Regions from separate parts of the Homo sapiens genome. Here region 1 is linked to region 2. A link means that fine-mapping ties the variant in region 2 to the expression of a gene that starts in the linked region. Tissue or cell type: whole blood. Region 2 holds a variant in brackets; the other region holds the start of a gene. All regions are shown on one strand. Distances are between the middles of the regions. Region 1 holds the start of SLC7A1 (solute carrier family 7 member 1). Region 2 has its middle 42 kb from the start of SLC7A1.

Region 1 (15,208 bases), 45 kb after region 2:
AGGTGATCCACCTGTATCGGTCTCCCAAAGTGCTGGGATTCCAGGCGTGAGCCACCGCGCCCTGCTGTGTTTTTAAAGTGAGGTGTTTTCTTATTACTCAGTTTTAAGAGTCCTTTGTGTATTTTGGATACCAGTCCTTTATCAGATATGTATTTTGCAAAGATTTTCTCCCAGCCTGTGGCTTGTCTTTTCATTGCCTTAACATTGTCTTTGCAGACCAGAAGGTTTTAACTTTAATGAAGGCCAACTTGGCAATCATTTCTTTCATAGATAATGCTTTTGCTGTTGTATCTAAAAAGCCATTGGTAGATTTCCTCCTATGTTATCTTCTAAGCATTTTATAGGTTTGTGTTTTACATTTAGGCCTATGATCTGTTTTGAGTTAATTGCTGTGTAAGATGTTAAAGTCTGTGTCTAGATTTATTTTTTGCATGTGGCGGTCCAGGTCCAGTTGTTCCAGGACCATTTGTTGAGGAGACTATCTTGTCTCCATTGACTTGTCTTAGCCACTCTGGATCAGCTATTTGTGTGGGTCTAGGCTACTGTTTGGGTTTCGATGTTTGTGCCCTCCAGACCTCATGTTGAAATTTGATCCCCAATGTTGAAGGTGGAACCTAATGGGAGGTATTTGGTTCACGGGTGTGGATCCTTCATGAAATGTCCTTCCTGGGGGTAGGTGGGACGGGGAGATGAATTTTCACTCTATTAGATGACTCTGGAGCTGGTTATTTAAAGGAACCGGGCCCTTCTCTCCTCTCCCTCTTGCTTATACTCTTGTCATGTGATCTCTGCACACACGCACACTCCCTTTCATCTTTTGCCATGAGTGGAAGCAGCCTGAAGCCCTCTCCACATGCAGATGTCCAATCTTGAACTTTCCAGCCATTAGAATTGTGAGCCAAATAAACCATTTTTTCTTTATAAATTACCCAGACTCGAGTATTCCATTATAGCAATACAAAACAAACTAAGTCTATTTCTGAGCTCTATATTCTGTTCATCTTTATACACATTTTTCATCCTTACCATGAAGTTCGTATGTATCCAGCAGGTAGTAAAATTCTTATTTCGAAAATGAGGAAACTGAGGCACAGAGTGAGCAGGGCCCCTCTCCCCAGGCCAGCAGCTGGTTAGAATTGAAACCCACATCTGCCTGGCTTTGATTCTGTGCACTTTCCTTGCCCCCAAGGTGCCTAATGGTGCTAGAAAGAGACTTAGTATGTCAACCTTAACCTTAGATGTTGCTCTCTAGGGCCTAAATTGTAGCATCTCCCTTTCTTAATGGTTGCTGGAATCTTGGGCAGCTGCTCTTTGATTGTAATCAAGGCTGCCTGTCACTCACGGTTTCTCTGAACCTGTAATGTGAGTCTTGACCTGCCTAAAAACTGGCTTTGCTTAAAACATGTAGCCCTCTTTATCAGCATCCTCTAATGTTTTGCTGAGATCTTGTGCGTAACTATTTTTTCCCTGGTTCATACTGAATCCTTTTTGCTGAGAAGTCACTTGCTCATGGGGCTTGTCTTATTGTCTTTTTGAAGACAGGACCTTGCTGAGTGGGATTGCTAAACGGAGCACAGTGCTAAAAATCTCCTGGGTTAAATGTCACCATACTCCCATCAGGGCCTGGAGCACTTGCTCTCAGAATTTACAAACATTAACTCATGTTGGCGCTCTGTGTTGCCCAAGGAGAGCATCTCTACAATTTATGAAATTCTATTTTACTGCCAGAAGTCAGCAAAGAGAAAAAGAAAGAAAGAGAGGCAGAAAGAGAAAATTCCACAGTCATATTTCAAACACCAAGGGATAGATTTTTTTCTTAAGAATATAAGATTTACAAGCTCCAAACAGGAGTGAAATAGTTTGCAGAAGCTCTCACAGCAAATGAACTGGTAGAGTTCAGATTCAAATCCTGATCTGGTGCCAAGGGCAAAGCAGGTGGTCTTTAATCCTACCAGGCTTCTCTCTGTGAGAAGGGGACATGCTTACTGTGGCCTCAGCAGACAGAGTAGGCTGCGTGGGATCTGGGAGATCTTCTGTGAATGGAAGGCATCATTTCACCACTGTGCAATTGAACTAAGATACATTGTTTTATTTATTTTTTATTGATTTTTATTATTATTTTTTTGAGACGGAGTCTCGCTCTGTCACCAGGCTGGGGCGCAGTGGTGCGATCTTGGCTCACTGCAACCGCCGCCTCCTGGGTTCAAGTGATTCTCCTGCCTCAGCCTCCCGAGTAGTTGGGACTACAGGCGTGCGCTACCACGCCCAGATCATTTTTGTATTTTCAGTAGAGACGGGGTTTCACCATGTTGGCCAGGATGGTGTCAATCTGCTGACCTCATGATCTGCCTGCCTTGCCCTCCCAAAGTGCTGGATTACAGGCGTGAGCCACCGTGACAGGCCAGATTTGTTGCTTTAAAACAAAGCATATATGGTGGCTTACTATGATGTCAAGCACTGTTCAAAGCACATTACAAAGCTGGGCAGGATGGTGCTCGCCTATATTTCCAGCTACTGGGGAAGCTAAAGTGAGGCGATCGCTTGAGCCTAGGAGTTCAAGGCTGCAGTGAGCTATGATGTTGCCACTGCACTCCAACTTGGTGACAGAGTGAGACCCACTCTCTAAAACAAAGACAAAAACACATTTTACAACTGCTAAGCCATCTGCATGTGTTCATTAAAACTTTTTCTGGGGACTTTTTCTGGCTCATCCCTGTAGTCCCGATGCTAGGGGAGGTTGAGGCAAAATGATCGCTAGACAGCTGGTATTTGAGGCCAGCCTATGCAACATATCAAAAACCCGTGTCTATATGTAGAAAAAATATTAACTAGGCGTGATGACACAAGCCTGTAGTTCCATCTGCTTGGGAGGCTGAGGCAGGAGGATGGCTTGAGCCTGGGAATTTGAAGTTCCAGTGAGCTATGATTGTACCGCTGCATTCCAGCCTGGGTGACAGAGTGAGACCCCTGTCTCTAAAAAACAAACAAATGACAACAGCAACAACAACAGAACACTTTTTCTGAAGCTAGCACCATGCAGTTATGTACTTTATAAATTGCTAGTCTAATTCCAAGGGAATAGTTCAGCAGCTGATATTTGAGAAGGACCTGTAGAAAGGATTCAAAGACCACGGACACCGTCCACTGTTTTTCTGTTTTCCTATAAGATAGAAGAAGGATGGCATTATTAATTTATGCCCTGTTTACCTATCCCAAGTCCCAGATCACTGGATCTTTAAAGATTATGATTCTCGCTTGGCTTTTGGTACAAAAGGAGACAAGGAGGGAGCTTAAAAGGTGAGCACGGTGTGATTCAGGACTGAAGCTTCTGCCACTTCCTGGGGGGTAACTGCAAAAGTGAGCCGTTCTGACTAGCCGTTTGTGCATTTGCCACTGCCAAGGGGGCACAGGTAGATTCAAGCTTTGGGGCTCTTCTGACAACTGGCAAGGATAAGGTATTAGCAAGGGCAAAGGAATAGTAATAAAATAATCCAATAACAAAGACATGAAGATTTATAATAATTTTTAGGCCGGTGCAGTGTTTCAGGACTGTAATCCTAGGGCGCTTTGGGAGGCCCAGGCGGGAGGATCGCTTGAGGCCAGGATTTCGAGGTTAAGGTGAACTGCGCTCCAGCCTGGGCAATAGAGTAACACCCTGTCTCTAAAATGAAAAGAAAACAGTTTAAACCTTTTAAGTGCATACCAAATCTTTTATTTTGGAGAAGGAAAACTGGTCTCGAGTTCCGTGTGAGCTCCCTGGGGCCCGCCGGGAGGGGGTTGGCACGGCCGGACCTGCAGCACTAGTTCTGGCCAGGGCGCTGTGGGATCTGCAGGGGACCACAGGATGCTGTGGCGCGGTGCGCTCAGATTGGCGGAGAAACGGCCACACGCCTACGGAGCTACTGAGAAGGCGAGCGGAGGCGCAGCCCGCCCGCCCGCCGCGGGAACCCCAGGTTGGGGCGCTGGGCGCGCGAAGACTCAGCCGCCCCGCCCACCAAGGGCGCGTCGGTCCCCGGCCGCAGCCTCTGGGCTGGCAGCCGCCGCCGCGCCGCGCTCCCATTGGTGCCCGGCGGTGACGCGGCCGAGCGGGCCGGGGCTGCCTGGTCCGGGGGCGGGCGTGGGGCGCGGGGCGCGGAGCGCGAGGGGCGGGGGCCGGGCGCACTGCTGATGAAACCTGGCGCCGGAACCCGCCAGCCCTCGGCGCCCATTCAGTCCGCGCAGGCAGGTGTGAGCAGCGGGTCAACTACCTGGCAGGCGCGCACGCGGCCGCGGGCTCCCGCTAACCGCAGCCTCCACTCCTCTCCCCGCGCGCCGCGCCCCCGCCCCGCCCCGCCCCGCCCGGTCTCGCCGGCCGAGCGTCCGTTGGTCCTTGAGCGCGTCCGACAGTCTGTCTGTTCGCGATCCTGCCGGAGCCCCGCCGCCGCCGGCTTGGTGAGTGCCCGGCCCCGCCAACGCAGGGGGCAGCTCCTTGGGCCCGGGTCATCACGGAGGGGGCCCTGGCGCCGCGTGGGGCCGCGGCAGGGCGGCGCGGGAGTGGCGAGGGCCCCCGCGCCGGGAACGCTGCCATCCTCTGGGAAGGGCCAGGACCAGGGCCGGGCGGGCCCCGGAGTGGGCGAGCGGGGCTGGTGCCCATGCGACTGTCGCCTCCACGGAGTCCATTTTGGCTCCCTGAAACCGCGGCGTGGTGCATGATGCAACACCGAGTGAGTAAGCGTGGGCGATCTGGCGATGCCCGCTCCGCGCGCCTGTCCGGGGACCCGCGCGCCGCTACGCACGGGGTGGTCGGGGTGCGTAGGCGGGCGGCGGGCACGGGGGCCAGACTGGGAGGCACACGGAGCCCGCCGGCGGCGAGGAGACCTTCCCTTACATGGCGCGGTGCAGAGCACCCCGCCCCGCCACGAGGTCCGGGGATGTGTCATCAGCCGTGGGTGGGGACTCTGCCCGGCCGCCCGGAGGGTGGTCCCGCGGCAGGTGGCCGGCCCAGGGACTCTGCTGCCATCCCCGCCCGGTGGCCGCCCTGACCTAGGGCGCCTGGCTCTCCGCTTGTCCCTAGAACCCGGGACGCGCCGCCTGCACCTCTCGTCTGGGTCCCCAAGATTGCTTTGAGGAAGTCTCCCCTAGGTGGGCTTCCTTGTGACCCAGTGTGGCCTGGAAAGGCCGGGTTCCTCAAGCCCTCCACATGGTTTGGAATGAGAGGAAGTTCTTCCGCCTTTAGCAAGACACCGTATTCTCAGGGTGTTCCTTTCTGCGTAGTAGAAAACTTCCCAGGCATGGGCAGGTCAGAGTCATTCTAAAACCTGCGCGTACACAGAGCGGCAGCTGCACTGTAGTACTACAACAGCCTGCTGGTTCAGCTCCTGACCCTTTCCAGGGGATGGGGGAACCAGACAGCAGTTGTGTTTGACTTGTGTGACTAGGATAGTCAGACATGTGCCTTCAGGAAAAAAATAAATAAATAACCTACATTTCCCAATACTCACGTCATCACCGCCATGCCCTCATGTGTTGGGTTTTAGTCCAGACATAGTTACCAGATGGTTGAGATTTCAATCCCAGGTGTATCTCCCTAAAGAATGTGCCTTTTATCTTACTTACATTCGACTAGTAGAATTGTGTATGTCGGCCTCTGGCCGAATGCCCTAATTGTATTTAATTCGAATTATAATTTATCTGGGATTTTTCCTAACATTTCTTGCCCTTTATGTTTGGTTCAGATAATAGGAAACCATGATACATTTATTCCTCTGGTATTTTTAGTTGATCTCAGTGGAAATTACCATGATTTTTATATGAACACACCCTCCTGTTATTAAAACAAAAGGTCTTATTTAAGTCACACGAACAGAATAGAAACTTAGGGGAAAGGTCAACAATAGATTAAAATGGTTTTAAAAATAGGTTTAGCATATTACGATCATGTTTAATTATTATAAAGGTAAAATTCAAAGGATGTCAAAGGAGTTTTGAGTAAAGAGGAAAGGGCTTAGTAAGTAGATCAGAAATGTACTCCCTTGTCTGGGTCTGGATCCTAGAGCCACGTGCTCCTGTACATATGATTACTTGCTTTAGGTGAAAAAAAAAAAGAAAGGCTTGAAAGACAAGACTGTTGACTTCAGGGAGTTACAATTTTCTATTTGGTAGAAGAACTCATTCTTTGATGGAATTAAATACGTGTTGATTGATTATTCTGGTCTGTAGTTTATTTTAACCAAAGTCCATACAAATAGATAATTATGTTGGAGGGCTCAGAATTATGTCCAATTAAATTAATCCTTTCTCATTATCAACCATGTATTTGGAGGGATTGCTATTAATCCTAGGGACAAATTTGAAATGTGAATAAGTGCATCCTTGTTATGGAGAAAAATATTGTTTCCCTCTAACCTTGGAGATACTTGAGTCTCGGAGTTATCTCTTCCAGAGGCATCTTCAGAGATGCCTATCACTCCACCTGCCTCTTGGTCCTCACTCCAAGCAAGACCTTCCGATAGGATGTGGTGTTTTTCTGTATAGTTGGCCCCTGCAGACCTGGATAGATTTTAAAGGCAGATCCAATAGGATTGGCCGGTGGATTCATGGAAGGACGAGAAAGGTCAAATATGACTCCAAGCACATCGGAGTTGCTGTATTAATGAGATGGGAAGGCTGAGCAAAGAACGTGTTGGATGGAAGAGGGACTTTTTGAAAGTCACAACTGACCTTTTTAGAACTCTTATCCCCAGGGTCAGGGCTGGAAGATGTATCTTCTTGGGGCCCCTCTCAGGTGCCTGCCTGTGTGTTGCAGCCACCCGTCCAGGCTGCTGGCCTCCTTCCCCTTCACCTAGCTTTACTGGCTCCTCTCGCCAAATCTGGGGGGTCTCTTCAGCCTCTGTCTCCTTGCTGCCCATGGCCTCCCTTTGCTCCCCTGCCGCCTTCTAGTGGGCCGCCTGGTGGTGGACTTGTCCTGTGGGATGGAGACCCTCCATACATGGGGTTCAAAGGTCCTGGGGTATTCCTGGATCTTCAGGACATCTGCCTACCCTCAGGTTTCCCAGGCCTCGGGTGGGGAGGCATCAGATCCCTGGCCAACCTGCTATCCACCCCAGGGTTTAGACCTCTCTTCCCGTGAGGGAACAGAGTAGTAGCTTCATTTGTGGCAGATTATCTGCCTTGTGATAAACTTTAGTGGCCTCCCTTTCTGTTTTGCCATAATCTGCCTCCTCCCCCACTCCCATACCCATCTACAAAGCAGCCTTGAAAATAACCACCCCTGTGGTTCAGTGTGGGTCATGATCTGTCAATCCAGGCTTAGTACATTTCCAAATGGAATTACCAGAAGGATGGGCATCAAACTGGGAAAATGATTTGGTGGCTTGCTAGCCGTGTTCCTTTTTCTCCCAAGGCATTCGTTCAGATGTGCAGTGTTGGCAGACCCAGGGGATGCCATTTACCTGGCCCACTGGTCGAGATTTGGTCATCCCAGGAACTTGGGCTTCAGAAAAGATGTTTCTGGGCTTTGGACCAGATTCTGGCTGGTCTGTGGTTTGCCCCTCCTGCCACACCCAGTGGCTTTCATTGGGCTTTTTTCCTCTAGTTATTGTCAGGAACAGTGGGGAATGGCAGGTATTGCATTTGGTGAACACACTGGATAACTGGAATCAGAGCCGTGTGACTGAGGGAAGAGGCCTTCACAGCTTCAATGCAGAATGGGATGATTATCTGCCCTGAAACGAAGGATGCTTCTTTGAGGGGAGTTGGGACCAATACTGGGAACAGCACCGCTCCTGGCTTCTCTGGCTTTGCTTCTCTCTGAAGTAATTTAGACTTCGTGAACCTTACATACTGGCTCCATCTGTATATTGGGAGAGCCTGTCCCTCTCAGCCTCACAGTAGTGAAGTTAGGAAGCATGGAGTCCACAGTGTTCTTTGAAAGAATCAAGGCACCAAGTCCATGCATTTACATTTCTCTCTTGAGATCAGTCCTTTTGTTAGCAGCCTGCAATTCTGACCACGGCAACCAAAAATTTCTGACCGTGGCAACCAAAAATCAAGCGCGAGGAAACCTGGGGGTTTATTTGGAGGTGGGAGAGGATGTCCCTTCTTCTGGTAGGACTATGTCTGGCTACATTGTCTTTCCATTTTTTTCTGATTGTCCCCTTGCCCCCCTCCCTTTTCTGGGGGCACAGAGGGCATGGCAATTTTGTTTCCTAGCTTTCCATATTCCTACTGCAGTGCTTTCTTCAGAATACTTGTTCAGATCGGATTCTTGGCTGTGAGGGCAACCAGCTGCTTTCCTGTTTCTTTAAAAGTGGATCCCACACTGCCGTGTCCTGCACAGTGAGTTCTGCATTGTAGAAACCATCTAGCAGTGGTGACTCAGGGAGTGGCCTCTGCTCGGTATGGGGCCTCTGCAACATGAGGTTATGGGGCTTCTACGCTGTGGGGTCAAAGGAGACATCATGATCCCTACTGGCAGAAAGAGCAGAGCCCCAGAGTGGGTTCCACTTACGGGGTCAGTGTCTTTTCTGAGATATTCCTCAGAACCACATTTAAATTCTTTTTCATATTGTTTGCATAATAATTGCCTTCTAGTGCCTACTTTATAGGACTGAGAGGATTTAAATGAGATAATCCATGTTATGGATTTAACACAGCCTCTGGCACAAGTCTAAATGTTGCATGTAAGTGTTAACTATTATACTGGAAAGAAGGCTCAGTTCCTTGATTTAGGTGTGGGAGAAAAATATATATATATTTTGAGATAGGGTCACACTCTGTCACCCAGGCTGGAGTGCAGTGGTGCAGTCACAGCTTGTATTAGCCTCCACCTCCTGGGATCAAGCGATCCTCCCACCTCAGCCTCTGAGGTACCTGGAACCATAGGTGTGTACCACCACACCCGGCTAATTTTTATTTTTTATTTTTTGGTAGAGAAGGGATCTCATTATGTTGCCCAGGCTGGTCTCAAACTCCTGGCCTCAAGTGATCCACCTGCCTCGCCTCCCTAAAGTGCTAGGTTTATGGTCGTGAGCCACTTAGCCTAGCCCTGAGAAAAATAATTTTTACAACAACTTAATTTCGCTCTCTCATTTTACCAAGGCATTAAAATGTTGTGCTCTTTCCTTGGGTGGGTTTCTAAATTAGAAGGGGCAGACATAGTCCCAGGGTGCTGGAGGAGGGATGCGGGCCTCTGAGGCATCTGCTGACAGGTTCACCATCCCATCTGGTCCCAGGTCTGAGGGAAGGAACAATAGTCTCTGGGCTGTTTTGGCTCTGACTGCCTGGATGGACTTGAAGCCATCTCTCTTTGGAATCCTGATGTCTCCCTGAGCATGGGGTGCAGGTTTGCTTAGGACTCAGACCCATGCACCTTGCGCTCAGTGACTTCTAGGACTCCTGGGAAACAGAGCTCTCAGCCCCTTTCTTAGTGTTTGCTGTGTGTGGGTATGTGTATGTTTATGTGTATGTGTATGTGTATGTGTATATGTATGTGTGTGTGTTTGGTGGGGGGCAGGACGGGAGTGACTGCCCTGGCTACAGTCATCCCAAACATGTTGTTCAAATTACTCCGAAGCCCTTGGGTTTTAGAAAAAGCAAAGCTGAAAAGCTGAAACTCTGGGCCGTGTTTCCCACCTCACTCATCCCGTGCTTGGGTCTGTAGGATAGGATGTCTCCATACAGCACAGGGGTGGTGGGCGACACCCACCTGGGGGCAGCAGTGAGAAGGCAGGGGCTCATCCTCCCCACAAAGTGGCTGGAGTTGATCTGTTATGGACGTGTTCGAAGTGTCCTTCTCTGCATCTTGTCTGCTTACTGAGTGCCATTAGCCAAAGTCTGTTAGGCCAAGTAGGAAGGAAGGGAGGGGCCCTGGGGCTAGGTAAGATCAATCATTGCAAGCACTTATTTAGTGCTCACCATGTACTCTGCGCTTTATCTATGTTTCATTTGAATCTTCCTAACCACCCAGTGGGATCGGCCCTTCTGGTGTGACTGATGGGGAGAGGGGAAGGCAGGTGGCCCACGGGCACACAGGTAGGCAGTCAGTGGCAGAGTGAAGATTGGAACCCAGATGTCTGCCTGTACCTGGACTCCAGCCTGTCTCGGGATAGGCCTGGCCTGGCCTGCCCTGTGTACACTGAGTGGGAGGCAGACAGATCTGAAGCCCATCTGCCTGCGTCCCTCTGTTTCTGGCTGAGTCCAGGTGGTGCTGGCACCGGTCACCCGCCCCAACGCTGGAGGGCACCCTGCCTCCCCTCTCTTTGCCCTGATTTCCCTCTGCTGTCTCTGAAAGTGGGTCTTCCCCCTCCCAAGTCCAGGCACCTGGCACAGCTGGAGCCCTGGGGTCCTTGGGGCAGCTGCGCTGGGACGTGGCCAGTGTCAGGAGCCGGTGTGTGTGACGGAGGCTGGGCTGCATTCTTTCTGGGTCAGTAGTTTGGCATTTACATCACCAGCCTTTGGCTGGATGCAATGCCTCCTGCCCAGACCACAATGGAGCCTTGTTTGATTTATCACCATCCAGCCACGCCCACACTCCACCTCCATCTCCACCTGGGGAGACCCCTTTGCAGGGGGTCTTGTGGAAATCAGAGACTGTTCGTAGGGGAAAGTCAGCTTCCTTTTCTGTGTTCCATCCTTCTTAAGGCCAGTGGCCGCTGTCATCCTGCCCTTGGCTTGGCTTTGCTGATTTCTACAATATCTTGCGGAGGTGCCCCCTTTCCTTAGAGGATGCATCTTTAACACTCTCAGAGAGGCTGGGGCAGGAGCTGTCCACACCAGGGCCTGCAGCAAGGGCCCGTCTTCCCCAAAGTGACTTGGGAGAGTCTTCCTGGCCCGCAGCTTTTCCACAGTGTCAGGGACACCTCCTGCCCTCCCTTGGGATGAGGCCTGGTCTAGGAGCTGGGGGCGTTAGGGTGCAGTTTCTGGGACCCAGTGAAGGCCCCTGGGAAAGACTGGCAGTTAGAGTTAGGAGAACTCTTCCCTCATCCCTTTTGCCCTTCTCCTTTTCCCCTTTTCTTTTTCAGCAGTTTTTGGATAACATTTCAAACTTAAAGAAAAGTTGCAGAGGCCAGGCATGGTGGCTCACGCCTGTAATCCCAGCACTTTGGGAGGCTGAGGCAAACAGATCACTTGAGGCCAGGAGTTTGAGACCAGCCCTGGCCAACATGGTGAAACTCATGTCTACGAAAAATACAAAAGTTAGCCTGGTGTTGGTGGCGCATGCCTATAGTTGCAGCTACTCGGGAGGCTGAGACACAGGAATCACTTGAACCCGGGAGGCGGAGGTTGCAGGGAGCCGAGATCACACCACTGCACTCCAGCCTGGGTAACAGAGTGAGATACTGTCTCAAAAAAAAAAAAAGAAAGAAAAGAAAAGAAAATTTGCAGGAGTGCAAGGAACTCCTGGGTACCGTCTCTCAGATGCACAGGTGGGTTATGTTTTGCCTCCTTCTATTCTCTCTCCACCCCACACAAACTCACATGCACACAGACACATACATTTTTTTCTGAACCATTTGAGAGTCAGCTGAAGACGTCATGCCATTTTATTTGCCCTCTATACTTCAGTGTATATTTCCTAAGAACAAGGCTCTTCTCTCACATAACCATGGTACAATAGCAAAGTCAGGAAATTTAACATTAATACAACCCTGCGATCTAGGCCACAGTCCATATTTGACTTGCAGTCGTCCACATAATGTCCTTTATAGCTAAGTATTTTTGGGGAAGGAGTTTTGCAGTGTGGGGGTTCTTTCAAAAGAGGTGTGATTTTCTACCTCATAAGCCTTTTTAAGAAAAAGTGTTTCTAAAAGTTAGAATGTTTGTTGTGGAAAATTTGGAAACTACAGAAAATTAAAAGAAGGAGAAAATAAAACCCATTCATAATTCCAGCTCAGAGGCTGAGTGATCGACCAGAAAGGTGGTGGAAAGACTTTCTCAGCTCCTTCAGCTCTGGTGACCTGGCCACACAGACTCGTGATCCCTCCACCACCCACACACTAGTCAGGAGCCCCGCAGCCAAGTCCTGGGGCTGTGGGAGGAGCCGGCCCCTGTCTGGAGCTGACGGTCTTTCATGCTCCTGCCCACCCCTTGGGCAGGTGCCCACCGAGCAGGCAGACTTAACCAGCCTTGGTGGTGCCTTTGTGGTGCATATCCTCCAGGTGGGGAAGGGTGGAGATCGTTAATAAATATCCAGAACTTGTTTGAGACTTGAAAAGAAATGTTGCAGGCCCACTCTTGTCTGGTCTATACCCCTTGCTTCCTGGACTTGGCAGAGGTTAAGGATGGGGCCTGGAGCGTGATTGAGGGAAACAGCACTGGCCCCATATCAGTGAGCTCTTGGGTGCTTCATGTGGTTGTTAGACTTGCCTTTTAATGAGCCTCTTGGCCCCTACCAGTGGGCTACGGAAGAAATAAAATGTGAAATTTTACCATGTGAAGTTTGCTGTTTGCCAATGACTGTGCTTCTCAAAAGTTCCTAGGGAAAGGTTTTAAAACTGGTGCAGGTAGTGAAGTTTGGATCTCGCTTCCCTGCTTTGTCCGCTTAGGTGGTCCATTCGCCATAACAGCTGGAACTGAGAGTGGCTCTCCCCTTTCCTGGCCCAGAACGGGTCTTTGCTAAGCGAGTCTGGTTTCTGGAAGGATTTTGTTCTTAGAAGCTACTACGTCATTGTCCTCAGCTCCCCATCATTTGTACCTCAGTTTCCCTGAGCTGTAAGTCTATGTTATGTGTGAAAATGGGCCTCTGAAGGTCATGATCAAAAGCCTTGAGTATTTTTCCATGTGTTTGTTTTTTCTACTCCGGCCCCAGACCCTCTCCTTGAAGGAGCTGGCCTTGAGAGTGACTTCGGTGGGCAGCCGCCCAGACTCCACACACCCTGCTGAGTCCACGTAACGCCCAACCTGGACGGGCCAGAGCTGAAGGGCTACTCTTCAAAGAAACCCTTTGAAGTGCAAACATTTCCTTTCCTGAAAAGAAGGGAAATTGAAATGAAAACGTATTGTTCTGTGCAGACAATGTTCTCTTCGATCAAAGAGGGAGTGGGGCTTATAAAGGGAGATGCACAAATTAGAGCTTGATGTGGCCAGTGGTGTGGATGTGAATATTCATCCCTGTGGAGGAAAATAGTGGGGTCTCTGAGATTTGTAAGATTGTATTTTCCTTTTTTTTCTTCTTTTTCCTTAAGGCTCTGAATCTAGGTCTAACGTTCTATTTAATGATGTCTCTCCTTTGTGTTTTTATCTTGTGGTAAGCATTTGGGAGTGTCTTTCAGTAAATCATGATACCATTTCCATGTTAGAATACTATGTAGCCAGTAAGAATGGCGTTTTCAAAGAACATTTGATTTTGTGGGAGAAACTTTAATGTTAAAAGTGAAACCATCTGGGTGCAATTTCCCATGTTCCGTGTTAGCTTAATGAGATATATGTATTTGCACAGAAAGAAAAGACTGGAAAAATTGGACTTTGTTTTTCTCACTGCAGTGTTTGTGGCACCTAAAATAGTGCTCAAGAAATATTTATTGAATGACTATTCTTATAATTAGTAAAACTGTATTTAAAGGAGGAATGTCTTTGAGCTAATGTTTTGGCAGGTGGATGGGACAATATATTATTTTAAGTTTCTGTTGTAATTTTGCCCTAGCAGCTCAGTTCTGGTAGATTTTGTTCTTTGGCACACATACATACCCCATTTTGCACTTTGGTACAAATTATACTGTGAATGGGTGACTTTGACATTTATATTTTTGGAAGAATCCAGTTCTACTGAAATCAGAGTATCAGATGTTGTCTTTTTCCTAATGTTCCCAGATGGGGTAGAATTACAGCTTCTTCTTACTTACTCTGTAACTAAGGAACCTTTGGGCCAGTTTGTCCTGTCCTGTGGTTGAGAATTTTTGCCTGGTTTGCCCAGGGTTTCTCATCCTTGAGCATCCAAGGCTACCAAGATACACTGTTCATATGTCGTCCTGGTTTCTAATGGATAGTTATCTAAAAATGCAGCTTCCCATTCTTACCTGCACTGTAGGTTAGCTTGGAAGATGTCCATCCCTGGTCTCAGTGGTCTTGTTCAGGGAGGGTGACTGTCACAGCTGTCCTTTCCTCTCTGGTGAGATTGTTTCATTCCTCCTTCAGGCACTTGGGATTCAGAGCCCTGTTGGCTGCCTCTTCTGTACTGTCAGCTTAGCACAGGATTCTGGAAGCCCGGTGCTGGGAAAGCCTTTCTCTGGGCTGTTTGGGATGGGACTACTGGTTACCCGCACACACTGGTACTCACTGGGTGTTCCCGAGGATGGCGGCTTTTAAACTTCTTTGACCGCAGTCTACAATAAGAACTAAATTTACATTGTAATCAAGTACACACACAGAGGCACACATATTGATATATAGATAAAATGAAAATTTTTATGAAACAGTACTCATTTTTACTATCTGTGATACGCTGAGATAATTTTTATTCTTTTCTATTTCATTACAAGAAAAATTCCTCGTGGCAACTTGGAGTTTGCAAAACACACTAGGTTTAGACATATGAGCCACACCTCACCTGCAACTCCACCACATTGTCCTGAATTTCATGTTCACTGCTGGCACTAGGGGATGGGAGTCAATTCTCCATCCAGACCAGTTAGGGCAAAGAAAGTTGAAGAGTCAAGGTTTCTTTTTGTGGTGATTTAGGAGTTTCTGACTGAAGGGGACATTATTCTCTGTGATGATGCCCAAGAAAGTGAGTAGGTTTTCAGGGCAGACCTGTGTGAATTCCCCAGTGTGGTTTGCTTTTGCATACTGGGGTATCTGTCCTTCGTTAACCTGACACAGTGGTGTCCCAAAGGTGGCCTGGTCAGGCTGTATGTGAGTTTTTAGAAATGGGCCATACATTTGTTAATTTCAGTGCTCTGATTTTCTTTGAGTTTATTTTATTCAGCGTGATGCGACGAAGAACCTGTCTGAAAGAGTTAAGGATTTTGGGGAAGAAGAGTGAGAAAAGATACTCATAGAAATGTTATTTTTTGACTAAATCTTATGGGTTAATATCGAACGGTATTGAAACTATATTAACAATAGCAGCCATACCATTAAATAGTTCTTCTTGAAAAGGTTGGATGGACTTTTGCTTAAGAAATGCTTGAATGTTTTTTCTTTTTTTTTCTTAGAAAATAAATGTCTTTAAGTCTGTGTATATAATTCACAAAACAATTGTAAATCAAGGGAATTGACTCTGCCTAACAAA
Region 2 (16,393 bases):
TGCAAAATCATGCCAAAATGTAAAGACCATCGAGACTAGGAAGAAACTGCATCAACTAATGAGCAAAATCACCAGCTAACATCATAATGACAGGATCAAATTCACACATAACAATATTAACTTTAAATATAAATGGACTAAATTCTGCAATTAAAAGACACAGACTGGCAAGTTGGATAAAGAGTCAAGACCCATCAGTGTGCTGTATTCAGGAAACCCATCTCACGTGCAGAGACACACATAGGCTCAAAATAAAAGGATGGAGGAAGATCTACCAAGCCAATGGAAAACAAAAAAAGGCAGGGGTTGCAATCCTAGTCTCTGACAAAACAGACTTTAAACCAACAAAGATCAAAAGAGACAAAGAAGGCCATTACATAATGGTAAAGGGATCAATTCAACAAGAGGAGCTAACTATCCTAAATATTTATGCACCCAATACAGGAGCACCCAGATTCATAAAGCAAGTCCTCAGTGACCTACAAAGAGACTTAGACTCCCACACATTAATAATGGGAGACTTTAACACCCCACTGTCAACATTAGACAGATCAACGAGACAGAAAGTCAACAAGGATACCCAGGAATTGAACTCAGCTCTGCACCAAGCAGACCTAATAGACATCTACAGAACTCTCCACCCCAAATCAACAGAATATACATTTTTTTCAGCACCACACCACACCTATTCCAAAATTGACCACATAGTTGGAAGTAAAGCTCTCCTCAGCAAATGTAAAAGAACAGAAATTATAACAAACTATCTCTCAGACCACAGTGCAATCAAACTAGAACTCAGGATTAAGAATCTCACTCAAAGCCGCTCAACTACATGGAAACTGAACAACCTGCTCCTGAATGACTACTGGGTACATAACGAAATGAAGGCAGAAATAAAGATGTTCTTTGAAACCAACGAGAACAAAGACACCACATACCAGAATCTCTGGGACGCATTCAAAGCAGTGTGTAGAGGGAAATTTATAGCACTAAATGCCTACAAGAGAAAGCAGGAAAGATCCAAAATTGACACCCTAACATCACAATTAAAAGAACTAGAAAAGCAAGAGCAAACACATTCAAAAGCTAGCAGAAGGCAAGAAATAACTAAAATCAGAGCAGAACTGAAGGAAATAGAGACACAAAAAACCCTTCAAAAAATCAATGAATCCAGGAGCTGGTTTTTTGAAAGGATCAACAAAATTGATAGACCGCTAGCAAGACTAATAAAGAAAAAGAGAGAGAAGAATCAAATAGACACAATAAAAAATGATAAAGGGGATATCACCACCGATCCCACAGAAATACAAACTACCATCAGAGAATACTACAAACACCTCTACGCAAATAAACTAGAAAATCTAGAAGAAATGGATACATTCCTCGACACATACACTCTCCCAAGACTAAACCAGGAAGAAGTTGAATCTCTGAATAGACCAATAACAGGCTCTGAAATTGTGGCAATAATCAATAGTTTACCAACCAAAAAGAGTCCAGGACCAGATGGATTCACAGCCGAATTCTACCAGAGGTACATGGAGGAACTGGTACCATTCCTTCTGAAACTATTCCAATCAATAGAAAAAGAGGGAATCCTCCCTAACTCATTTTATGAGGCCAGCATCATTCTGATACCAAAGCCGGGCAGAGACACAACCAAAAAAGAGAATTTTAGACCAATATCCTTGATGAACATTGATGCAAAAATCCTCAATAAAATACTGGCAAACCGAATCCAGCAGCACATCAAAAAGCTTATCCACCATGATCAAGTGGGCTTCATCCCTGGGATGCAAGGCTGGTTCAATATACGCAAATCAATAAATGTAATCCAGCATATAAACAGAGCCAAAGACAAAAACCACATGATTATCTCAATAGATGCAGAAAAAGCCTTTGACAAAATTCAACAACCCTTCATGCTAAAAACTCTCAATAAATTAGGTATTGATGGGACGTATTTCAAAATAATAAGAGCTATCTATGACAAACCCACAGCCAATATCATACTGAATGGGCAAAAACTGGAAGCATTCCCTTTGAAAACCGGCACAAGACAGGGATGCCCTCTCTCACCACTCCTATTCAACATAGTGTTGGAAGTTCTGGCCAGGGCAATCAGGCAGGAGAAGGAAATAAAGGGTATTCAATTAGGAAAAGAGGAAGTCAAATTGTCCCTGTTTGCAGACGACATGATTGTTTATCTAGAAAACCCCATCGTCTCAGCCCAAAATCTCCTTAAGCTGATAAGCAACTTCAGCAAAGTCTCAGGATACAAAATCAATGTACAAAAATCACAAGCATTCTTATACACCAACAACAGACAAACAGAGAGCCAGATCATGGGTGAACTCCCATTCACAATTGCTTCAAAGAGAATAAAATACCTAGGAATCCAGCTTACAAGGGATGTGAAGGACCTCTTCAAGGAGAACTACAAACCACTGCTCAAGGAAATAAAAGAGGAGACAAACAAATGGAAGAACATTCCATGCTCATGGGTAGGAAGAATCAATATCGTGAAAATGGCCATACTGCCCAAGGTAATTTACAGATTCAATGCCATCCCCATCAAGCTACCAATGACTTTCTTCACAGAATTGGAAAAAACTACTTTAAAGTTCATATGGAACCAAAAAAGAGCCCGCATCGCCAAGTCAATCCTAAGCCAAAAGAACAAAGCTGGAGGCATCACACTACCTGACTTCAAACTATACTACAAGGCTACAGTAACCAAAACAGCATGGTACTGGTACCAAAACAGAGATATAGATCAATGGAACAGAACAGAGCCCTCAGAAATAATGCCGCATATCTACAACTATCTGATCTTTGACAAACCTGAGAAAAACAAGCAATGGGGAAAGGATTCCCTATTTAATAAATGGTGCTGGGAAAACTGGCTAGCCATATGTAGAAAGCTGAAACTGGATCCCTTCCTTACACCTTATACAAAAATCAATTCAAGATGGATTAAAGATTTAAACGTTAAACCTAAAACCATAAAAACCCTAGAAGAAAACCTAGGCATTACCATTCAGGACATAGGCGTGGGCAAGGACTTCATGTCCAAAACACCAAAAGCAATGGCAACAAAAGACAAAATTGACAAATGGGATCTAATTAAACTAAAGAGCTTCTGCACAGCAAAAGAAACTACCATCAGAGTGAACAGGCAACCTACAACATGGGAGAAAATTTTTGCAACCTACTCATCTGACAAAGGGCTAATATCCAGAATCTACAATGAACTCAAACAAATTTACAAGAAAAAAACAAACAACCCCATCAAAAAGTGGGTGAAGGACATGAACAGACACTTCTCAAAAGAAGACATTTATGCAGCCAAAAAACACATGAAGAAATGCTCATCATCACTGGCCATCAGAGAAATGCAAATCAAAACCACTATGAGATATCATCTCACACCAGTTAGAATGGCAATCATTAAAAAGTCAGGAAACAACAGGTGCTGGAGAGGATGCGGAGAAATAGGAACACTTTTACACTGTTGGTGGGACTGTAAACTAGTTCAACCATTGTGGAAGTCAGTGTGGCGATTCCTCAGGGATCTAGAACTAGAAATACCATTTGACCCAGCCATCCCATTACTGGGTATATACCCAAATGAGTATAAATCATGCTGCTATAAAGACACATGCACACGTATGTTTATTGCGGCACTATTCACAATAGCAAAGACTTGGAACCAACCCAAATGTCCAACAATGATAGACTGGATTAAGAAAATGTGGCACATATACACCATGGAATACTATGCAGCCATAAAAAATGATGAGTTCATATCCTTTGTAGGGACATGGATGAAATTGGAAACCATCATTCTCAGTAAACTATCGCAAGAACAAAAAACCAAACACCGCATATTCTCACTCATAGGTGGGAATTGAACAATGAGATCACATGGACACAGGAAGGGGAATATCACACTCTGGGGACTGTGGTGGGGTCGGGGGAGGGGGGAGGGATAGCATTGGGAGATATACCTAATGCTAGATGACACATTAGTGGGTGCAGCGCACCAGCATGGCACATGTATACATATGTAACTAACCTGCACAATGTGCACATGTACCCTAAAACTTAGAGTATAATAAAAAAAAAAAAAAAAAAAAAAAAGTAGTTCTCAAATCAATATCCAAACCTTCAACCTTAAGATCCTGTATCTATTTAGATATATTTTATATACATTAGATAAAATCTAATAAATGATATATAATCTAACACATACTATATATTAGATAAAATCTAATCATTCTAGTGGAACTATTAGAACATTAGTTCTAAATACAGATTATTTTAGATTTTTTAGGGATATAATTTTTTTATATTATTTCTGAATAATGATAATTCTCTTTCTTTCTATAATTTGTTTCTTTTTCTTCACATTATGTACTGACTAGAATATCCAGTAAAATGTTTAATAGAAATAGTTAATGATGAGCATCCTGGTCTGATCCCTGATACCAGAACAAAAGCTTTCAACACTTGCCCAATAAGTATGATATTGGCTGTAGGTTTTTGGTGGATACAACTTATCAGTTTCTTTCTATTTCTACTTTGCCAAGAGTTTTTCCCCCACTTCCTTCCTGTATCATGAATAAGTGTTTTTTTTATCAAATACCCTTTCCAAGTCCATTGAGTTGATTGTGTCATTTTTCTTCTTTGTGTTGCTAATTTTGTAAGTTACATAGATTTTACCCCCTTTAAGTTAACTTTCTAGAACAAACTGTTGGGGCTCAGAAACTGATACCCCAAAATATGATGCCTTGAAATGCTGAACTGAACGAGAAGCCTCAAGGCCTCTCTGGGCTTCCCCCATCTTGTCTCTCAATCCTCTGTCTCTCCCAAAGCACAGGATGGAGTTGTTCTCTGAACTTCCCTTATCTGCCTAAAGTCTGGGCTCACCGAAGAAGAAAACAATGACCTCTGCTCCCTTCCCTGAGTTTTATAAACTGAACTTATATTGCAGGAAGAAACACTGAAGTCTGTCAACACGCCTGAACAGACTTGTCACAAACCACTATGTGCTCTGCAAGCCCAGCTAACTTTGTCCCAGGCCATTACGTTTTTCAGTCTCATTGAATTCCCCTAAAAATCATTTACTATCCCCCTAAAATCATCCACACTTTCCTATCTTCCTTTCCCCTAAGAAGAAGGGTATGTAAGCATCTGTACCCCTTTGGCCTATTGTGTGGTGGGTTAATCATTCTGGGATGGCTCCCCCTCCCTGCACATTAATATATTCATATGCCTTTTCTCCTCTTCATCTGCCTCTGTCAGTTGATTTTCAGAGTTCTCTCTTGGCCTCAACAAAACCGAACTTGGTCATGCTGTATTATCCTTTCTTAAAATATCCTCATTGGGATTTTGTATCAATTTTGTGATGGATCATAAAACTATTAGATTGACCCATATGCAATCGCTGATATTCAATCATTTTTGATTGACACCAACAGCCTTTTCAGAAGGTTTGACCTAATTGTTGTAGAGTATTCCTACTTTGGTTTTTCTCTGTAAGAGTTTGTTATAAATTAGCATTATTGCGTTCCTAAATGTCCAGAAGAATATATTGGCAAAGCTATTGGGTTTTATAGATCATATTCTTTAATCCTTATGTGGCTTTCAGATTTTCTATTTTTGTCCCAATATTGGTAAGTTATACTTTTATCTAACAAATTTAAACATTTCCTCTAAATTTTCAAAATATTGTTTTAAAGTTGTTCATCACAAATGGAGCTGGAGGCCATCATCCTTAGAAAACTAACGCAGCCAGAAAATCAAATACCACATTCTCTCACTTGTAAGTGGGACTAAATGATGAGGACACACGAACACAAAGAACGAAACAACAGACCCTGGGGCCTACTTGAGGGTGGAGGGTAGGAGGAGGGAGAGCATCAGTCAGAAAAAAAATAACTGTTGAGTATTTGGCTTGGTACCTAGGTGATGAAATAATTTGTACAACAAACCCCCATGGCACAAGTTTGCCAATATAACAAACCTGCGCATGTACCCCTGAACCTAAAATAAAAGTTAAAATAAGTAAATAAAGTTGTTCATGCTATCTTCTCATGGTGTTTTCATGTTTATGAGGTCTGTGGTATTTCTACTTTTCTATTTTTCATTGATTCTTTACATCTTTTCTCTTTTTTTCTTAATGTTGCCATGGGTTCATCAACTTATTAGTCTTCTCAAATAATCTATCTTTTATTTTGTCATTCCTCTCTATTTTATTTTCTATTATATTAAGTCTTGTGGCTACATTTATTATTTCTTCCTTACATAATTTTGGAGTTTACTTTAATGTTCTTTTTTTTTTCTCATGACAGTTATTTAAATAATTGAGCTGGGCACGGTGGCTCATGCCTGTAATCCCAGCACTTTGGGAGGCCGAGGCGGGCAGATCACAAGGTCAAGCGATCGAGACCATCCTGGCCAACATGGTGAAACCTCGTCTCTACTAAAAATACAAAAATTAGCTGGGCGTGGTGGTGCACACCTGTAGTCTCAGCTACTTGGGAGGCTGAGGCAGGAAAATCACTTGAATTCGGGAGGCAGAGGTTACAGTGAGCCGAGATCATACCACTGCTCTCCAGCCTGGCAACAGAGTGAGACTCTGTCTCAAAAATAAATCAATAAGTAAAAATAATTGAATGTCCACCTTTCTTCTTTTCAAACATATGCATATAAACTTATAGATTTCCCTCTAACAACATTTTAGCTATATCCTACAAGTTTTGAAATGTAACATTTTTGACATTTTTCAATTTAAAATATTTTAAAATATTCATTGTGATATTTTCATTGACTGGTGGGTTATTTAGAAGTTTATGTCTTAATGGCCAAACATGTAGCGATTTTCTAGTTATGTTTGTTGTTTCTAGTTTAATTGCATTTAATAGAAGAAAATTTTTTGTATGACTTAAGTTCTTTGACACGTGTCAATATTTGATTTCTGATTTCACTTATAGCAATTTTTTATAAATATTTCATGTGCATTTGAAAATAACAGATAGTCTGCTATTATTGAGCATGAGTGTTGTATATTTGACAATTAGATCAGCTTGACTCATTATTGTGTTCAGATTTTCTGTATCCCAACTGAATTTTTGTTTGCTTGTTCTACCATTGACTAGAAGAGGTGCGCAAAGTATCCTACTATAGTTGTGAACTTCTCCTCTTAGGATCTGTCAATTTTTCCCTTACATATTTTGAAGCTGTGTTATTACATATGTTCAGATATATAATTATTATAGCTCTTTGGTGAACTAGCTCATTTATCATAAGGAATTTCTCTCTATACTCACAGTAATGTTTTTTGCCTTAAAGTCTGTTTGATACTAATGTAGTTACTACTATGTTAATCTTTTGATAGATGTTTGCATGGCATGTTACATCTTTTCCCATCCTGATGTTTTCTATACTTTACTTGTAAAGCAGTAAACACAAGAGGCTGAGGTGGGAGGATTGCGTGAGCCCAGAAAGTTGAGGATGCAGTGAACCATGGTCAGGCCAGTGCACTCCAGTATGACCACAGAGCGAGACCATATCTCAAACAAAAAAAGCAGTAAAAAGGTGATATTGTTTTTATCTTAATGTGGTTTGGCAGTCTTAACCTTTAATCAAAAAATTAATCTTTTACATTCGTTATAATTGCTGTATTTTTATTATAAATATGCTACTTGATTATTTGGTTATTTTTCACCCTCTTTCAAAAGGACTTTCAAATATTTTATTTAACTCTATTCATCCCCCATCCATACCTTTATGCCATTGTTATATTTTAATTGTACATATTTGAAAATCATAAAACATTGTTTTTCACTTACTTTTTTTTTTTTTTTTTTTTACTGCTCTTCATTTCTTCCTACATCTCTGAATTTCTATCATCTATCTGGGATCATTTTTCTTTTGCCTGAAGAATACCTTTTAGCATTTCCTTTAGTTCAGATCTTCTTATGATGAATTATCTCAGTTTTTGTTTCCATAATTATTTATTTTTTTCTTCAACTTTTATTTTGTGTTCTGGGTTACATGTGCAGGATGTGCAGGTTTGTTACATAGGTAGTTTGCTGCACAGATCAACCCATCATCTAGCTGTTAAGCCCAGCATCCATTAGCTATTCTTCTTGATGCTCTCCCAACCCCCACCACACCTGACAAGCCCCAGTGTGTGTTGCTCCCCTCCATGTGTCTATGTGTTCTCATCGTTCACCTCCCACTTACAAGTGAGAACATGCAGTGTTTGATTTTCTGTTCCTGCAGTAATTTACTGAGGATAACGGCCTCCAGCCCCATCCATGTCCCTGCAAAGGACATGATCTCATTCCTTTTTATGCCTGCATAGTAGTCCATAGTTTATATATACCACATTTTCTTTATCGAGTCTATCACTGATGGGCATTTGGGTTGATTCCATGTCTTTGCTATCGTGAATAGCGCTACAATGAACATACATATGTATGTATCTTTATAATAGAATGATTTCTATTCTTTTGGGTATATAGCCAGTAAAGGGATTGCTGGGTCAAATGGTATTTCTGCTTCTAGATCTTTGAGGAATTACCACACTGTCTCCTACACTTTTGAATTAATTTACATGCCCAC[C/A]AACAGTGTAAAAGCATTCCTTTTTCTCCACAACCTTGACAGTATCTGCTGTTTCTTAACTATTTAATAATCACCACTCTGGGTGGCTGGCAAGATGGCTAAATAGGAACTGCTGTGGTCTGCGGCTCCCAGTGAGATCAACACAGAAGGTGGGTGATTTCCGCTTTTCCAACTGAAGTACACAGCTCATCTCATTAGGACTGGTTAGATAGTGGGTGCAGCCCACAGAGGGTGAGCCAAAGCAGGGTGGGGTGTTGCCTCACCCGGGAAGCACAAGGGGTTGGGGAACTCCCTCCCCTAGTCAAGGGAAGCCATAAGGGACTGTGCCATGAGGGACTGTGCTATCCAGCCCAGATACTTCGCTATTCCCATGGTCTTCCCAACCCACAGATAGGGAGATTCCCTCATGTGCCTATGCCATGAGGACCCTGGGTTTCAAGCACAAAACTGGGCAGCTATTTTGGCAGACACAGAGCTAGCTGCAGGAGATTTTTTTTCATACCCCATTGACACCTGGAAAGCCAGCAAGAGAGAACCATTCACTCCCCTGGAAAGGGGGCTGAAGCCAGGGAGCCAAATGGCCTAGCTCAGCAAATCCCACCCCCAGGAAGCCCAGGAAGCTAAGATCCACTGGCTTGAAATTCTCGCTGCCAGCACAGCAGTCTGAAGTTGACCTGGGATGCACCAGCTTGCTCGGGGGAGGGTTGTCTGCCATTACTGAGGCTTGAGTAGGCGGTTTTCACCTCACAGTGTAAAGAAAGCCACTGGGAAGTTCGAACTGGGCGGAGCCCACCTCAATGCTGCAAAGCTGCTGTAGCCAGACTGCCTCTCTTGATTCCTCCTCTCTGGGCAGGGCATCTCTAAAAGAAAGGCAGCAGCCCCAGTCAGGGGCTTATAGATAAAACTCCCATCTCCCTGGGACAGAGCACCTGGGGGAAGAAGTGGCTGTGGGCATAGCTTCAGCAGACTTAAACCTTCCTGCATGCTGGCTCTGAAGAAAGCAGCAGATCTCCCAGAATAGTGCTCGAGCTCTGCTAAGGGACAGACTGCCTCCTCAAGTGGGTCCCTGACCCCTGTGCCTCCTGACAACAAGACGCCTCCCAGCAGGGGTAGACAGACACCTCATACAGGAGAGCTCTGGCTGGCATCTGGCGAGTGCCCCTCTGGGACCAAGCTTCAGAGGAGGAACAGGCAGCAATCTTTGCTGTTCTGCAGCCTCTGCTGGTGATACCCAGGCAAAGAGGGTCTGGAGTGAACCTCCAGCAAACTCCAGCAGACCTGCAGCAAAGGGGCCTGACTGGTAGAAGGAAAACTAACAAACAGAAAGGAATAATATCAACATCAACAAAAAGGATGCCCACACTGAAACCCCATCTGAAGGTCACCAACATCAAAGACCAAAAGTAGATAAATCCACAAAGATGAGGAAAAACCAGTGCAAAAACGGCTGAAAATTCCAAAAACCAGAATGCCTCTCCACCTCTAAATGATCACAACTCCTCGCCAGCAAGGGAACAAAACTGGGTGAAGAATGAGTTTGCCAAACTGACAGAAGTGGGCTTCAAAAAGTGGATAATAACAAACTCCCCCGAGCTAAAGGAGCACATTTTAACCCAATGCAAGGAAGCTAAGAACCTTGAAAAAAGTTTAGAGGAATTGCTAACTAGAATAACCAGTCTAGAAAAGAATGTAAATGACCTGATGGAGCTGAAAAACACAGCATAAGAACTTCATGTAGCATACACAAATATAATTAGCTGAATTGATCAAGTGGAAGGAAGGATATCAGAGACTGAATATCAACTTAATGAAATAAAGCAAGAAGACCAGATTAGAGAAAAAAGAATGAAAAGGAATGAGCAAAGCCTCCAAGAAATATGGAACTATGTGAAAAGACCAAACCTACATTTGATTGATGCACCTGAAAGTGACGGAGAGAATGGAACCAAGTTGGAAAGCACTCTTCAGAATATTATCCAGGAGAACTTCCCCAACCTAGCAAGACAGGCCAACATTCAAATTCAGGAAATATGGAGACCACCACAAAGATACTCATCAAGAAGAGCAACCCCAATCTACATAATTGTCAGATTCACCAAGGTTGAAATGAAGGAAAAAATGTTAAGGGCAGCCAGAGAGAAAGGTCGGGTTACCCGTAAAGGGAAGCCCATCAGACTAACCAGACTAACCGTGCATCTCTCTGCAGAAATCCTACAAGCCACAAGAGAGTGGGGGCCAATATTCAACATTCTTAAAGGAAAGAATTTTCAACCCAGAATTTATATCGAGCCAAACTAAGCTTCATAAGTGAAGGAGAAATAAATCCTTGACAGACAAGCAAATGCTGAGAGATTTTGTCACCACCAGGCCTGCCTTAGAAGAGCTCCTAAGGAAGCACTAAATATGGAAAGGAACAACTGGTACCAGCCACTGCAAAAACATGACAAATTGTAAAGGCCATTGACACTGTGAAGAAACTGCATCAACTAACAGGCAAAATAACCAGCTAGCATCATAATGACAGGATCAAATTCACACATAACAATATTAACCTTAAGTGTAAATGGGCTAAATGCCCCAGTTAAAAGACACTGACTGGCAAATTAGATAAAGATTTAAGACCCATCAGTGTGCTGTATTCAGGAAACACATCTCACATGCAAAGACACACATAGCCTCAAAATAAAGAAATGGAGGAATATTTACCAAGCAAATGGAAAGCAAAAAAAAAAAAAAAAAAAGCAGGGGTTGCAATCCAGTCTCTGATAAAACAGACTTTAAACCAACAAGAATCAAAACAACAGCAACAACAACAAAAACAGAAGGGCATTACATAATGGTAAAGGGATCAAGGCTACAAGAAGAACTAATTATCCTAAATATATATGTACCCAATACAGGAGCATCCAGATTCATGAAGCAAGTTCTTAGAGACCTACAAAGAGACTTAGACTCCCACACAATAATAGTGGGAGACTTTAGCACCCCATTGTCAATATTAGATCAGCAAGACAGAAAATTAACAAGGATATTCAGAACTTGAACTCAGCTCTGCACCAAGTGGAGCTAATAGGCATCTACAGATTCTCCACCCAAAATCAACAGAATATACATTCTTCTCAGCACCACATCACACTTATTCTAAAATTGACCACATAACTGGAAGTAAAACATTCCTCAGTGAATGCAAAAGAACTGAAATAATAACAAACATTCTCTCAGATCACAGTCCAATCAAATTAGAACTCAGGATTAAGAAACTCACTCAAAGTCACACAAATACATGGAAACTGAACAACCTGCTCTCGAATGACTACCAGGTACATAACAAAATTGAGGCAGAAATGAATAAGTTCTCTGAAACCAATGAGAACAAAGACTCAACATACCAGAATCTCTGGTATGCAGCTAAAACAGTGTTTAGAGGGAAATTTATAGCACTAAATACCCACAAAAGAAAGCAGGAGAGATCAAAAATTGGCACCCTAATGTCACAATTGAAAGAACTAGAGAAGCAAGAGCAAACAAATTCAAAAGCTAGCAGAAGACAAGAAATAACTAAGATCAGAGCAGAACTGAAGAAGATAGAGACGCGAAAAACCTTTAAAAAAATCAGTGAACCCAGGAGCTGGTTTTTTGAAAAGATTAACAGAATAGATAGACTGCTAGCCAGACTAATAAAGAAGAAAAGAGAGAAGAATCAAATAGACACAATAAAAAATGATAAAGGGGATATCACCACTGAACCCACAGAAATACAGACTACGTCAGAGAATACTATAAACACCCTTATGCAAATAAACTAGAAAACCTAGAAGAAATGGATAAATTCCTGGACATATACATCCTCCCAAGACTAAACCAGGAAGAAGTCAAATCCCTAAATAGACCTGAAATTGAGGCAGTACTTAATAGCCTACAAACCAAAAAAAAGCCCAGGAACAGATGGATTCACAGTCAAATTCTGCCAGAGTTAGAAAGAGGAGCTGGTGGCTGGGTGCGGTGGCTCACGTCTGTAATCCCAGCACTTTGGGAGGCCGAGGCGGGCAGAACACGAGGTCAGGAGATCGAGACCATCCTGGTTAACACGGTGAAATCCCATCTCTTTTTGGTATTTTTAATACCAAAAAATTAGCCAGGCATGGTGGCGGGTGCCTGTAATCCCAGCTACTCGTGAGGCTGAGGCAGGAGAATGGTGTGAACCCAGGAGGCAGAGCTTGCAGTCAGCCGAGATTGTGCCACTACACTCCAGCATGGGGGACAGAGGACAGAGCGAGACTCTGTCTCAAAAAAAAAGAAAGAAAAAGAAAGAAAGAGGAGCTGGTACCATTCCTTCTGAAACTATTCCAAACAATAGAAAAAGAGAGACTCCTCCCTAACTCATTTTATGAGGCCAGCATCATCCCAATACCAAACCCTGGCAGAGACACACACAAAAAAGAAAATATCCCTGATGAACATTGATGCAAAAATCCTCAATAAAACACTGGCAAACCGAATCCAGCAGCACATCAAAAAGCTTATCCACTATGATCGAGTTGGCTTTTTCCCTGGGATGCAAGGCTGGTTCAACATACTCAAATCAATAAATGTAATCCATCACATAAACAGAACCAATAACAAAAACCACATGATTATCTCAATAGATGCAGAAAAGGCCTTCGATAAAATTCAACACTCCTTCATGCTAAAAACTCTCAATAAACTAGGTATTTATGGAATGTATCTCAAAACAATAATAGCTATTTATGACAAACCCACAGCCAATATCATACTGAATGGACAAAAGCTGGAAGCGTTGCCTTTGAAAACCAGCACAAGGCAAGGATGCCCTCTCTCACCACTTCTATTCAACATAGTATTGGAAGTTCTGGCCAGGGCAATCAGGCAAGACAAAGAAATAAAGTATATTCAAATAGGAAAAGAGGAAGTCAAATTATGTCTCTTTGCAGATTATATGATTGTATATTTAGAAAACCCCATCATCTCTTTAAGTTGATAAGCAACTTGAGCAAAGTCTCAGGATACAAAATCAATGTGCAAAAATCACAAGCATTCCTATACACCAATAATAGACAAACAGAGAGCCAAATCATAAGTGAAGTCCCATTCACAATTGCTACAAAGAGAACAAAATACCTAGGAATACAACTTACAAGGTATGTAAAGGACCTCTTCAAGGAGAACCACAAACCACTGCTCAAGGAAATAAGAAAGGACACAAACAAATGGAAAAACATTCCATGATCATGGGTAGGAAGAATCAATATTGTGAAAATGAGCATACTGCCCAAAGTAATTCAAAGATTCAATGCTATCCCCATCAAGCAACCATTGACTTTCTTCGCAGAATTAGAAAAAACTACTTTAAATTTCATATGGAATGAAAAAAGAGCCTGTATAGCCAAGACAATCCTAAGCAAAAAGAACAAAGCTGGAGGCATCACGCTACCTAACTTCAAACTATACTACAAGTCTACCGTAACCAAAACAGCATAGTACTGGTACCAAAGCAGATTTATAGACCAAAGGAACAGAACAGAAGCCTCAGAAATAATGCCACACATCTACAGCCATCTAATCTTTGACAAACCTGACAAAAGCAAGCAATGGGGAAAGGATTCCCTATTTAATAAATGATGTTGGGAAAGCTGGCTAACCATAGGCAGAAAACTGAAACTGGACCCCTTCCTTATGCCTTATATAAAAATTAACTCAAGATGGATTAAATACTTAGATGTAAGAACTAAAAGCATAAAAACCCTAGAAGAAAACCTAGGCAATACCATTCAGGACATAGGCATGGGCAAAGACTTCATGACTAAAACACCAAAAGCATGGTAACAAAAGCCAAAATTGAAAAATGGGATCTAATTAAACCAAAGAGCTTCTGCACAACAAAAGAAACTATCATCAGATTATACAGGCAACCTACAGATGGGAGAAAATTTTTGCAATCTATCCATCTGACAAAGGGCTAATGTCCAGAATCTGCAAGGAACTTAAACAAATTTACAAGAAAAAAACAACCCCATCAAAAAGTGGGCAAAGGATATGAACAGACACTTCTCAAAAGAAGACATTTATACAGCCTACAGATTTGTGAAAGAAAAGCTCATCATCACAGGTTATTAGAGAAATGCAAATCAAAACCACAGTGAGAAACCATCTCATGCCAGTTAGAATGGCGATCGTTAGAAACTCAGAAAACAATAGATGCTGGAGAGGATGTGGAGAAATAGGAACAATTTTACACTGTTGGTGGGACTGTACATTAGTTCAACCATTGTCGAAGACAGTGTGGCAAATCCTCAAGGATCTAGAACTAGAAATACTGTTTGACCCAGCAATCCCATTACTAGGTACATACCCAAAGATTATAAATCATTCTACTATAAAGACACATGCACATGTATGTTTATTGCAACACTATTCACAATAGCAAAGACTTGGAACCAACCCAAATGCCCATCAATGATAGACTGGATAAAGAAAATGTGGCACATATACACCATGAAATATTATGCGCCATAAAAAAGGATGAGTTCATATCCTTTGCAGGAACATGGAAGAAGCTGGAAACCATCATTTTCAGCAAACTAACACAGGAACAGAAAACCAAATACTGCATGTTTTCGCTCATAAGTGGGAGTTGAACAATAAGAACACACAGACACAGGGAGGGGAACGTCACACACTGGGGTCTGTTGGGGGTTGGGTGGCTAGGGGAGGGATAGCATTAGGAGAAATACCTAATGTAGATGACGGGTTGATGGGTGTAGCAAGCCACCATGGCACATGTATACCTATGTAACAAACTTGAACATACTGCACATGTATCCCAGAATTTAAAGTATAATTTTTTTTAAAAAGTGTCATAAATAAACTTTATTTTCCTCTTAAAAAAGTAATCACCACTCTGACTGGCATGAGATGGTATCTCATTTTGGTTTTAGGTTTTTGTGCATTTCTTTAACAATGAGTGATGTTGAGCTTTTTTTATATGTTTGTTGGCTGCATGAATGTCTTCTTTTTAGAAGTGTCTGTTCGTGTCCTTTGCCCACTTTTTAATGGGGTTGTTTTTTTCTTGTAAATTTATTTAAGTTTCTTGTAGATGCTGGATATTAGATCTTTGTCAGATGGATAGACTGCAAAATTTTTCTCCCATTCTGTAGGTTGTCTGTTCACTCTGATGATAATTTCTTTTGCTGTACAGAGCTCTTTAGTTTAATTAGATCCCATTTGTCAATTTTTGCTTTAGTTGCAATTGTTTTTGACATTTTTGGCATGAAATCTTTGCCTGTGCCTATGCCTTGAATGGTATTGCCTATTTCTTCTACGGTTTTTATAGTTTTGGGTTTTACATTTAAGTGTTTAATCCATCTTGAGTTAATATTTGTATATGGTGTAAAGTAGGGGTCCAGTTTCTGCATATGGCTGGCCAGCTCTTCCAGCACCATTTATTAAATAGGGAATCCTTTTCCCACTGCTTCTTTTTGTCAGATTTGTCAGTGATCAGGTGGGTGTAGGTGTGTGGTCTTATCTCTCAGTTCTCTATTCTGTTCCATTGGTCTATGTATCTGTTTTTGTACAAGTACCATGCTCTTTTGGTTACTGTAGCCTTATTAGTATGGTTTGAAGTTGGGTAGCATGATGCCTCCAGCTTTGTTCCTTCTGCTTAGGATTGTCTTGGCTATTCGGGCTCTTTTTGGATTCCATGTGAATTTTAAAATAGTTTTTTTCTAATTCTGTGAAGAAT

Evidence for each region. PIP is the estimated chance that this variant, and not a neighbour inherited with it, causes the effect.
Region 1: SLC7A1 starts here. The variant in region 2 is fine-mapped to the expression of SLC7A1 in whole blood (TOPMed, PIP above 0.99).

Annotation. Positions count from the first base shown.
Region 1 is chr13:29,584,639-29,599,846 of GRCh38, reverse strand. It overlaps SLC7A1 (solute carrier family 7 member 1), which reads left to right and starts at 4,159. Exons shown (of 13, transcript NM_003045.5): 1 at 4,159-4,431. RefSeq lists silencers at 3,793-5,032, 5,201-5,495 and enhancers at 5,143-5,272, 6,362-6,861, 6,862-7,363, 9,524-10,520.
Region 2 is chr13:29,629,446-29,645,838 of GRCh38, reverse strand. No RefSeq gene overlaps it. Among named protein-coding and RNA genes, the nearest start is that of SLC7A1, 42 kb to the right of the region's middle. The variant C/A (reference allele first, on the strand shown) is at 8,635.